Regions from separate parts of the Homo sapiens genome. Here region 2 is linked to region 1. A link means that fine-mapping ties the variant in region 1 to the expression of a gene that starts in the linked region. Tissue or cell type: whole blood. Region 1 holds a variant in brackets; the other region holds the start of a gene. Each region is shown on its reference strand, or each on the opposite one. Region 1 overlaps IKZF1 (IKAROS family zinc finger 1). Region 2 holds the start of CORO1B (coronin 1B).

Evidence for each region. PIP is the estimated chance that this variant, and not a neighbour inherited with it, causes the effect.
Region 2: CORO1B starts here. The variant in region 1 is the best candidate, but not a certain one, in a credible set for the expression of CORO1B in whole blood (TOPMed, PIP 0.56).

The regions. Positions count from the first base shown.
Region 1 is chr7:50,330,724-50,334,723 of GRCh38, forward strand. All of the region lies in intron 3 of IKZF1 (IKAROS family zinc finger 1), which reads left to right. Among named protein-coding and RNA genes, the nearest start is that of IKZF1, 28 kb to the left of the region's middle. The variant T/C (reference allele first, on the strand shown) is at 1,758.
Region 2 is chr11:67,441,677-67,446,202 of GRCh38, forward strand. It overlaps CORO1B (coronin 1B), which reads right to left and starts at 1,800. Exons shown (of 11, transcript NM_020441.3): 1 at 1,728-1,800; 2 at 752-954; 3 at 290-412; 4 at 57-186. The coding sequence starts at 952. RefSeq lists enhancers at 16-855, 1,696-2,535, 2,196-2,295, 4,506-4,526 and silencers at 1,716-1,765, 1,806-2,065.

The DNA.
Region 1 (4,000 bases):
GGATAAAGGGAATAACCTGGGTACCATATTTCATCACATTATTCCATGGGAATAAGTCATCAGTGCAAAGGACTGTAAGGAGTGCACAGCAGGAAATGAAAAGACAGAAGCAGTGGGGCCGAGAGGAGGAAATGGAGTTGCTGAAATGCAGGGTGAGCAGCAGGGGCGGAGAGTGCCCTGTGGGTAAGGCACACCTCAGAAGGGACAGGTCCAGGCCCTCTCCTCCCTGGCCTGGAGCTTCTGGCAAGGCTTTTCTTCTCTGAGCCTCACTTTCCTCTTTTGAAGGTGGCAATAGTAACTGAACCTGCATCACAGAATGGCCTTGAGGGTTAGATGGAACATATATAGACATAATTTGTTGAAGACAGAGTAGCAAAGACACAAAGTAAAAAGGACAGAAAAAAGAAATGCAACTTGTGCAAAATAGAACTTTCAAAGATTTACAAGAAGGGTAAATGAAGCTATCGTAGCTTCACTTGGGAAAAGGGAGAGAACAGATGACCAGCACCAAGGATAGAAGAGGGATTTCTTACTTTAAAAAAAATGGTCCAAAGAATAAACAAACTGAAAACAGCCAAAAGAGAAAGGAAGAATTTGTTAGAATAGGGCAAGACTAAAGGACAGAGTAAGGGTGCTGGCCGCCACCTGACTCAAGTTCAAGTCGAGCTGCCACTGTTGAAATTTCAAGGAGAAATGGTGAGAAGCTAAAAGATGCAAAAAAAAAAAAAAAGTGGGAAATTATTTGCTAATAATAGATTGCAAGAGTGTCTGCTTTAGAAAGTGACAAGGAACACTTTTGGAAAGCTGTGAGCTGTTATGACCACTGGCATCCTTCAGTTTTAGACAAATCTAATCTCAACAAGGATAACAGACCATATTAATAAACAAATTGATGGGAATGGTGGAAATCAGTTCCCTATGAGGAGGGTGCAAAGTTATACTGATTGGTGAGTCACTCCCAGAATAAACAAATAATGGTTTCACACCTCATTGCTTCATTCAGTGTGGAAGGAACATTCTAGGTTTGTGTGTAAGTTTGGGGAGAAGGAGACAGAGCCAGAGGGCAGAGCAGCCCTGCAGCCCTCAGTTGGCCTCCATTTTCTTCCCGGTCTGAAGAAAATGAAACAAAGGATTTAAAGTGTTGCTTGAAGAATTTAAGTTAGACTTAAAGGAGAGATGTGGTCTTTACTCTCCTTTTGGCAAGGAGAGTTTAGTCATCAGAATGGTCTATTTAGTGAGACTGTAGCTTGTTCTTCTGAAGTGGTCTTTTTAAAAACTAGAGAACTCTCACCTCTCTGAAGTGGTTGTGTATGAAACTGTTTAAAGCCGAGGATGCACTCAGTGACCTCTTCAGGCAACCCCAGATTTACTCAGTCAGCCATGGCACACATGCTAGAGAAGTAAAAAAATGAATTGAGACTTGTTCTGAAAACTCTTGAGCAGGGGCTCTTAAAAGTTTTTTGTTTAGGAATTATGTCAGGGTTGGGGTCTGGAGAGCAGATAAGTGTTTTGTGTGAGAAAAGTAAAAACTTAGTTATTTTCTTCCCGTATTCAGTAATCCTTGCATTTTTTTCCTCCTCCTTTATACATACATTTTTGCCAGTTACTGACTTCTCTCTTGTACACATTTCCGTGTCCTAAATTAACCAAGAGTCCTCAGCCACTAGGATTCTATTGACAAGCCCACAGGTCTGGAGGTGTGAGTAAGGGCATTCCTCCCCCATGAAATCAGGCAGCAGGGGAGGCGTTTGGGTGGG[T/C]GGAACAGAGGAGCAAAAGACCAGAGGACAGAGAAGAAAGATTGCAGGCTAGAAAACGGGATGGCCACCCCTGAGAAAGAGGACAAGCAAATTTAGGGCTTAGAGTAGAATTGAAGAAAAAACCCAGGGCAGAGGCACAGGAATGCTGTAGGACTGAACTGGGACCATGATTGATGTAAGTGGAGATGGGTTGGTTGAATCCGTGGAAGGCCAAAGGATTGAGGCCCATATGGGCCTGGGACAGGGCTTACTAAATGACTTGCTACCTGGCTTGATAATCGGGACAACCTCAGGCAGTAGTTATTCAGGCGGGAGGACACATGAGTTTGAATATAGGGAGATAAGGTATATTTCTATATGCCCTGGTACATTCCAGAATGTGCTTCTCTGGCTCTGTGCACTGGAGCAGCCAACTCCTGAAGTTGGGAGGGGATCGCCATGGTTTCATGAGTGGTTTATTTCAGCTTGCATCTCACAGTGTGGTGTTCAGAGGCATAGGCTCTAGGCTCCCTGGCAGCACTGAGAGATAGAAACTGAATCAGCACAACTTAGGTCCTTCATGTTGAATAGTTTGAACAGAATTTGATTTACCCTAGCCTAATTGAAAAAAAAAAAAGTAGAAAAGAAATCTAGGTATTTTCCCTCTGGACTCCAGAACAAATGATTGAGTGTGTAAAAGCATAAATCTTTTTTATTCATTCAATTGAAGTAAAAATTTCTTTACTCAGCCATGAGTTCTAAGACTGCAGTGGGAATTGTAAGAGGATTACCATATTTTAAATTGGCTATTCTGGTGCCAAATCTCCCCTTCATTTTACAGTTTCAGGCAGAAGACCAGCACGGTAGTCGGGGGAGGGGGGTGGGTAGACAAATGGTGGTAACAGTCCTCTACACTCTGGGAGGGAAGGAGCGGTGCTGGGGACAGCTTTCACCATGGAAAGAAAGCAGCCGCTCTGGAGATTGGGCAGCAGGCTTTTGAGCACGGATGCGGAGCCTGCTTATCTAATCAGCAGCTAGAGGAAGTTGTTTTTATCTGCGAAATGCATCTCTTCTGAACCGATAAACCCCATTTTAGCTGGGGAGAAATATTATCTAGCAGCATCTGAGCATTAGCTGCAGCTGAACTCAAGCATGTTCAAATGTGAGAGAAGTCTCAAGCCGAGAACTGTTTGCCGAACTTCAAGTGGCTGGAGTACTGGTTTTCAAGTTTTCTTTTCTTTCTTCTTTGAGGAATAACTGAAAGCATATTATTTGGATTCTTGTTCACCTTGCTTTTTTAGTTCCTTTCCCCCTTCATAGTTGAATTATTGTTCAGTGGTCCATGGAGCAAATTTTGAAAATTCTATGTTATTCATCTTGCAATTTACTACCACTATCTTGGAATGCCTCGTGAAGACAGCAGGTATTGTCAGCATGAACATATCCAAACCCAGATGATCCCGGTTGGAAAGCCTCCCCTTTTTCAAATTTCCCAAACATGAAATATAGTATTACAAAATGATCTGCCCACCTCTAAGCTTTTCCATGTTTGATAAGAGAGGCCATCATGTAACAGGTTCATTGCTTCGCATTTCAAAGTAAATTTTAATTTACAGTCTTCCAGATTCGTTTTGGGTAGGATTTTTATGTCTGCTAATTTGTCAAATAGTTCAAAATGTTTAGGGATCATGATGTCTTCCACAGAACTTCATGACAGTTTTGATTTTAGATTAAAGTAAGTGACTTTTGTGCTATATCAGATAACATCTTGTACTAGGTTTTGGAATAGACCGGTGAGATCAGGCAGCAGAAGTTTAATAACTTTCCTTGGAAAACTGAAATTGATGTGTGTGTGTTTGTGTATATGTGCATGTGGTACATGTGTTGTGTGTGTGCAGGTGTCTGTATATATGTGGGGGGTATATGTGGTGTGTGATGTATGTATATGTATGTGTGTGGCATGTGTGTGTTTGTATCTATGTACATGTGGTATGTTTATGCATGTAGTTGTATGTTGTGTGTGTCATATGTTTGTGTGTGCATGTATGTGTGTGGTGTGTGTGTGTATGTGTAGTGTATATGTGTATGCTGTGTATATGTATATGGGGTGTGTATGTGTGTGGTGTGTGTATATGAATGGGATGTGTAGTGTATGTGTGTGCTGTGTATATGTGTATGGGATGTGTGGTGTGCATATGTAGTGTGTATATGTGTGTGAGATGTGTAGTGTGTGTGTGGTCTGTATATGTGTATGGGATGTGTGG
Region 2 (4,526 bases), not on the chromosome of region 1:
GGATGTATGGAGGGGTCCGTGGGGGGGGGGAGCACAAAACGGGGGGCGGTGCAGACCTGCACTGAGCAGCACGTTTCGGGCCGTGGGGTGCCAGGCGATGATGCCCACTCGCTTGGTGTGCCCCTCCAGTACCACCACCGGCTCTGTCAGCGGGGAGGTCAGCCCGTTCTCTGGGATCTGCCACACCTGTGGTAGGGACAGGGCCACCGAGCTCAGTCCTCTGCTGGTCCTATTGCTGGCCCCCTTCGGCCACACCCACGACCCTGGCCCAGCCAGTCCTGTGCCTCACCATGACCGTGCAGTCCTCCGAGCCGCTGGCTATGACTTCGTCGTTGTGAGGACACCAGTCGATGTCCAGGACAGGTCCCGTGTGCCCACACACCGTCGGGTAGGCCTTGTCAATGCGGCCCGTCTGTGGGCACGAGGGGGCAGTCAGTGGGCTCCATCCCTCCCGAAGCCTTGGTCTTCCCCTCCATGGAGTGGGAATGACATGCACGTCCCGGCTCACAGGTGGCCCAGATGTGACTGTGCCCCACTTGCCAGGTGAGCAGGAAATGTTTGCTGCCTCTAACCCTGCCTCTATGGCAACAGGCTACTTTCCATCTGTGCTAACACTTGGGGCGATAAATCTGGGTTATAACACCTGCCCAGCAGTGTGAGAAACGGCAAGATGAGGGATTCAAGGTGTGCAGAAAGGCCCAGTAGGGGTGGCCGAGGTGCCTCCTCTTCCCCCAACCCTGACAGGACCCACCTTGCTTAGGGGGAGCACCAGAAAGGCACCCCCTCCACTGGCCTCCACAATCACCGCCAGGAACTTGGGGTTGACGGCGCAGAAGGTGCTGTCCCAGGTAACACGGGACACGCGAATGTCCTCATAGCACTGGTCGTTCTTGACCGGCTGCCCGAACACATGCCGGAATTTGCTCTGCCGGACCACTTTGCGGAAGGACATGTCTGCGGGACAGAGAGGCCTGGGTCAGTCCGGCCCATCCCAACAACTCCAGCCCTCCCCAGGCTGCTGAAGGTGAGCCGGGAGGATGCAACCGGGGGCCAGGCCACCGTAACCCTCCTGGGTCTCGGTTTACCCAGTTACAGAATGGGGTCACAGGTGCAGAGCCTGGCCGCCTGTCACCCCGCAGGCAGTGATCTGAGAGGTAAATGCTCCGGCCCTGACCACTGCTGAGTCCTGAGGGGCTTTGCAGGACGCAGGGCCCCTCCCTGGCTCTGGTGTGTGTCGGGGGCAGGAGGTGGGAGGTGCCGGGGTTGGAGAGCTCTCAGCTCTACTGTAGGTCCCAGCCAGTCGGGAGCAGCCTCCTTCCTGCTCCCAGAGATTTGGAGGCTAGGTAATGGGGAAGAAGGAGAGAGGAAGCAGGAAAAGTCTCTCTACTGTGGGGCCGAGTGAGTGCCCAGTTCTGAGTCCCAGGGAATGTCCAGGGAGCCCCGGCATGGCCCCCAGGAAGGGACGGGGTCGGGACGCAGCTGTGGGCCGCGAAGCAACCCAGAGCGGCCTCGAATCGGGGTCCAGGGTGAACCAGGAGCCCAACTTCCAGGGACCTCCGCCCAGGAGAGGAGAGGCTGGGCGGCCAAGGGGAGTGGGACTGAGTGGGGTAGAGGGGAGGCGAAAGGCTCCTGGGACCCGCGATCCCCCCTCAGCCCCCTCAGCCCGGCCCCTGCAGCCCCGCCCAGCCCCCAGCCCGCGCCCCTAGCCCCGGCCCTGCCGCGCTCACCGGGGGCACCGGGGGCGCAGGGGGCTGCGGCACCGGCTTCGGGCGGCTCCGGATCCCGGCCTCTGGGAAGCAGGAAGCAGGATTCAGGAAGTGACAGAGGGACCCGGAGCGGGGGCGGGGCAGGGGCTCGCGGGGGCGGGGCCGAGGTCACGCGCGGAGGGGCTGGGCGGGAGGCTGAGCGGCGCCGGGGGGCCGGGAGCGGGGCCGCCGGGGACGGGGCCAGAGAGAGCCCCTTTCCTAGGACCCGGTGGAGCGCCCCCACCGCAGCTCCTCCGGAAGAAGGGGGCGGGGCGGGGCAGGGCCGACGGCGGCCGCCGCAGAGGCGCCGCAGGTGCGGGTGCAGCCTTACAGCGGACCCGAGGCCCCTTCGCGTTCTTGCTCCTCATAATGGCATCCGCAGGAGTCTCCAGGATTGGGTGAGGCCCCGCCTTCCCGGCCCCCGACGGAACGCACACCTCCAAGGGGCCCCATTACCGCCCCCAACAAATAAATGTAGAATCTACACGGACAGTGGATATGTTCACGTGACTCTTTTTAAGTTATCAAAGTTAATGCTCTTTTTTTTTTTTTTTTTTTTTTTTTGAGACGGAGTTTTTGTCACCCAGGCTGGAGTGCAGTGGCGCGATCTCGGCCCACTGCAACCTCCGCCCTCCCAGGTTCAAGAAATTCACCCCAGTAGCTGGGACTACAGGCTTATACTACCACGCCCGGCTAATTTTTTGTATGTTTAGTAGAGACGGGGTTTCACCATGTTAGCCAGGATGGTCTCGATTTCCCGACCTCGTGATCCGCCCGCCTCGGCCTCCCAAAGTGCTGGGATTACAGGCGTGAGACACCATGCCCGGCCTAAATTTCATGCTCTTGGTTAACAATGTAAAGAAAACAACAGCAGGTGTTGGGGTGGTTTTTTTTTTTTTTTTTGAGGCAAGGTCTGTCACTACCGGGCTAGAATGTAGTGCCATGATCATGGCTCACTACAGGCTCGACCTCCTAGGCTCAAGGGATCCTCCTGCCTCAGCCTCCCAAGTAGCTGGGACTACAGACACACACCACCACGCCTGGCTAATTTTTCTTTTACTTTTTGTAGAGATGGGGTCTCTTGCTCTGTCGCCCAGGCTGGTGTGTTTTTTGTTTTGTTTTGAGATGGAGTCTCGCTCTGTCTCCCAGCCTATAGTGCAATGGCGCGATCTCGGCTCACTGCAACTTCTGCCTCCCGTGTTCAAGCAATTCTCCTGCCTCAGCCTCCCAATTCGCTGGGATTACAGGTGCCTGCTACCATACCCTGCTATTTTTTTTGTATTTTTAGTAGAGATAGGGTTTCACCATGTTGGCCAGGCTGCTCTTGAACTCCCGGGCTCAAGCAATCCTCCTGCCTTAGCCTCCCAGAGTGCTGGGATTACAGTTGTGAGCCACCGTGCCCATCCAGAAAATAGCAGTGTTTATGGAGCGAGTGGAAGACCCAGGAGTCCCATTTTTCAGGGTAAACACCTGTGCATTCTGCTGAGCTTTCTTATTACAATTTGAAAGGGGGCCATGGCCAGTGAGTCCCTTGCACCTTGCCTTCTTTTCTCCACCATCTCCCTCGAAGGCCTGGAGATCCATTCACAGGCCTCTCTCTTTCTCTAGCCAGCGCCTGTGACAAGGAGCCCAGACTGGCCTCTCCAGACCCACCCCATCCCGTTCCACAGGTGGAATGTACCCCCGTTCCCTTAGGCCAGCGGCTCTGGGGCACCGGCTACTTCCCTTATTCTTTCCTTGAGCATCCACTGCCCTGGCTGACCGATGGCACCCTCCCTTTCCCAGAAAGAGATGGATGGAGGACGAAGCGGGGGAAGAGCAGAGGTCACAGGAGCCTTGTCTCTGGCTAAAAGAGGCCCCCACTGTGTGTCTGAGGGTGACCTCGGGCTTGTCTCCCATCTCATTCCCATTGCCACACCCCATTGAGGAAACAGGCACAGAGAGGTGCGGTGCCTGCCTGAGGTCATCCAGCCGGATGCAATCCCCATCGGCTTGGGTCCAAAGCCCTTGCTTTTCCTAGTGCTCTATAAACCCTGGGGCTAGAAGGATCATCTAGATCCCACCCACCTTCCTTCCCACCCCGAGGCCTGGGCACATCCTGTTCTCTCCATCTGGAAGCTCTTTCCTCAGATCCCAAAAAGGCTCCTTTCCCCACTCGATTCAGGTCTCTGGTCAGACATCACCTCCTCCTAGGGCTCTCCTGGACCATTCCTCACCCAGCCACTCTTTGGTCTTACTTGTCCTGACTGCATTGTTCTTTTTTTGGGAGACAGGGTCTTGCTCAGTTGCCCAGGCTGGAGTGCAGTGGCACGGTCCTAGCTCACTACCGCCTCACACTCTGGGGCTCAGTCCTCCCGCCTCAGCCTCCCAAGTAGCTGGGACTACAGGCACGTACCACCATGCCTAGCTAATTTTTATTTTTGTAGAGATGGAGGTCTCCTATGTTGTCCAGGCTGGTTCCAAACTCCTGGCCTCAAAAAATCCTCCTGCCTCAGCCTCCCAAAACTCTGGGATTACAGGTGTGAGCCACCACCCGGCCTGTGTTCTCCAGCGCCGCCTGATGTTGCATCAGGTGCTTATTGGTGTATTTGGTTTGTGTCGGCCTCCACCAGGATGTCAGCAAATTGAGGGGAAGGACTTTGCCTATCTTCCTACTGTATTCCCAGCACCCTGAACAAGATCCAACACTCAGTATGGGATCAAGTAATGTATGAGGAATGAATGAATGAGCAGCAGCCCTGAATGTAGAATTGAACAATACTCATAATCACAATTCTCAGG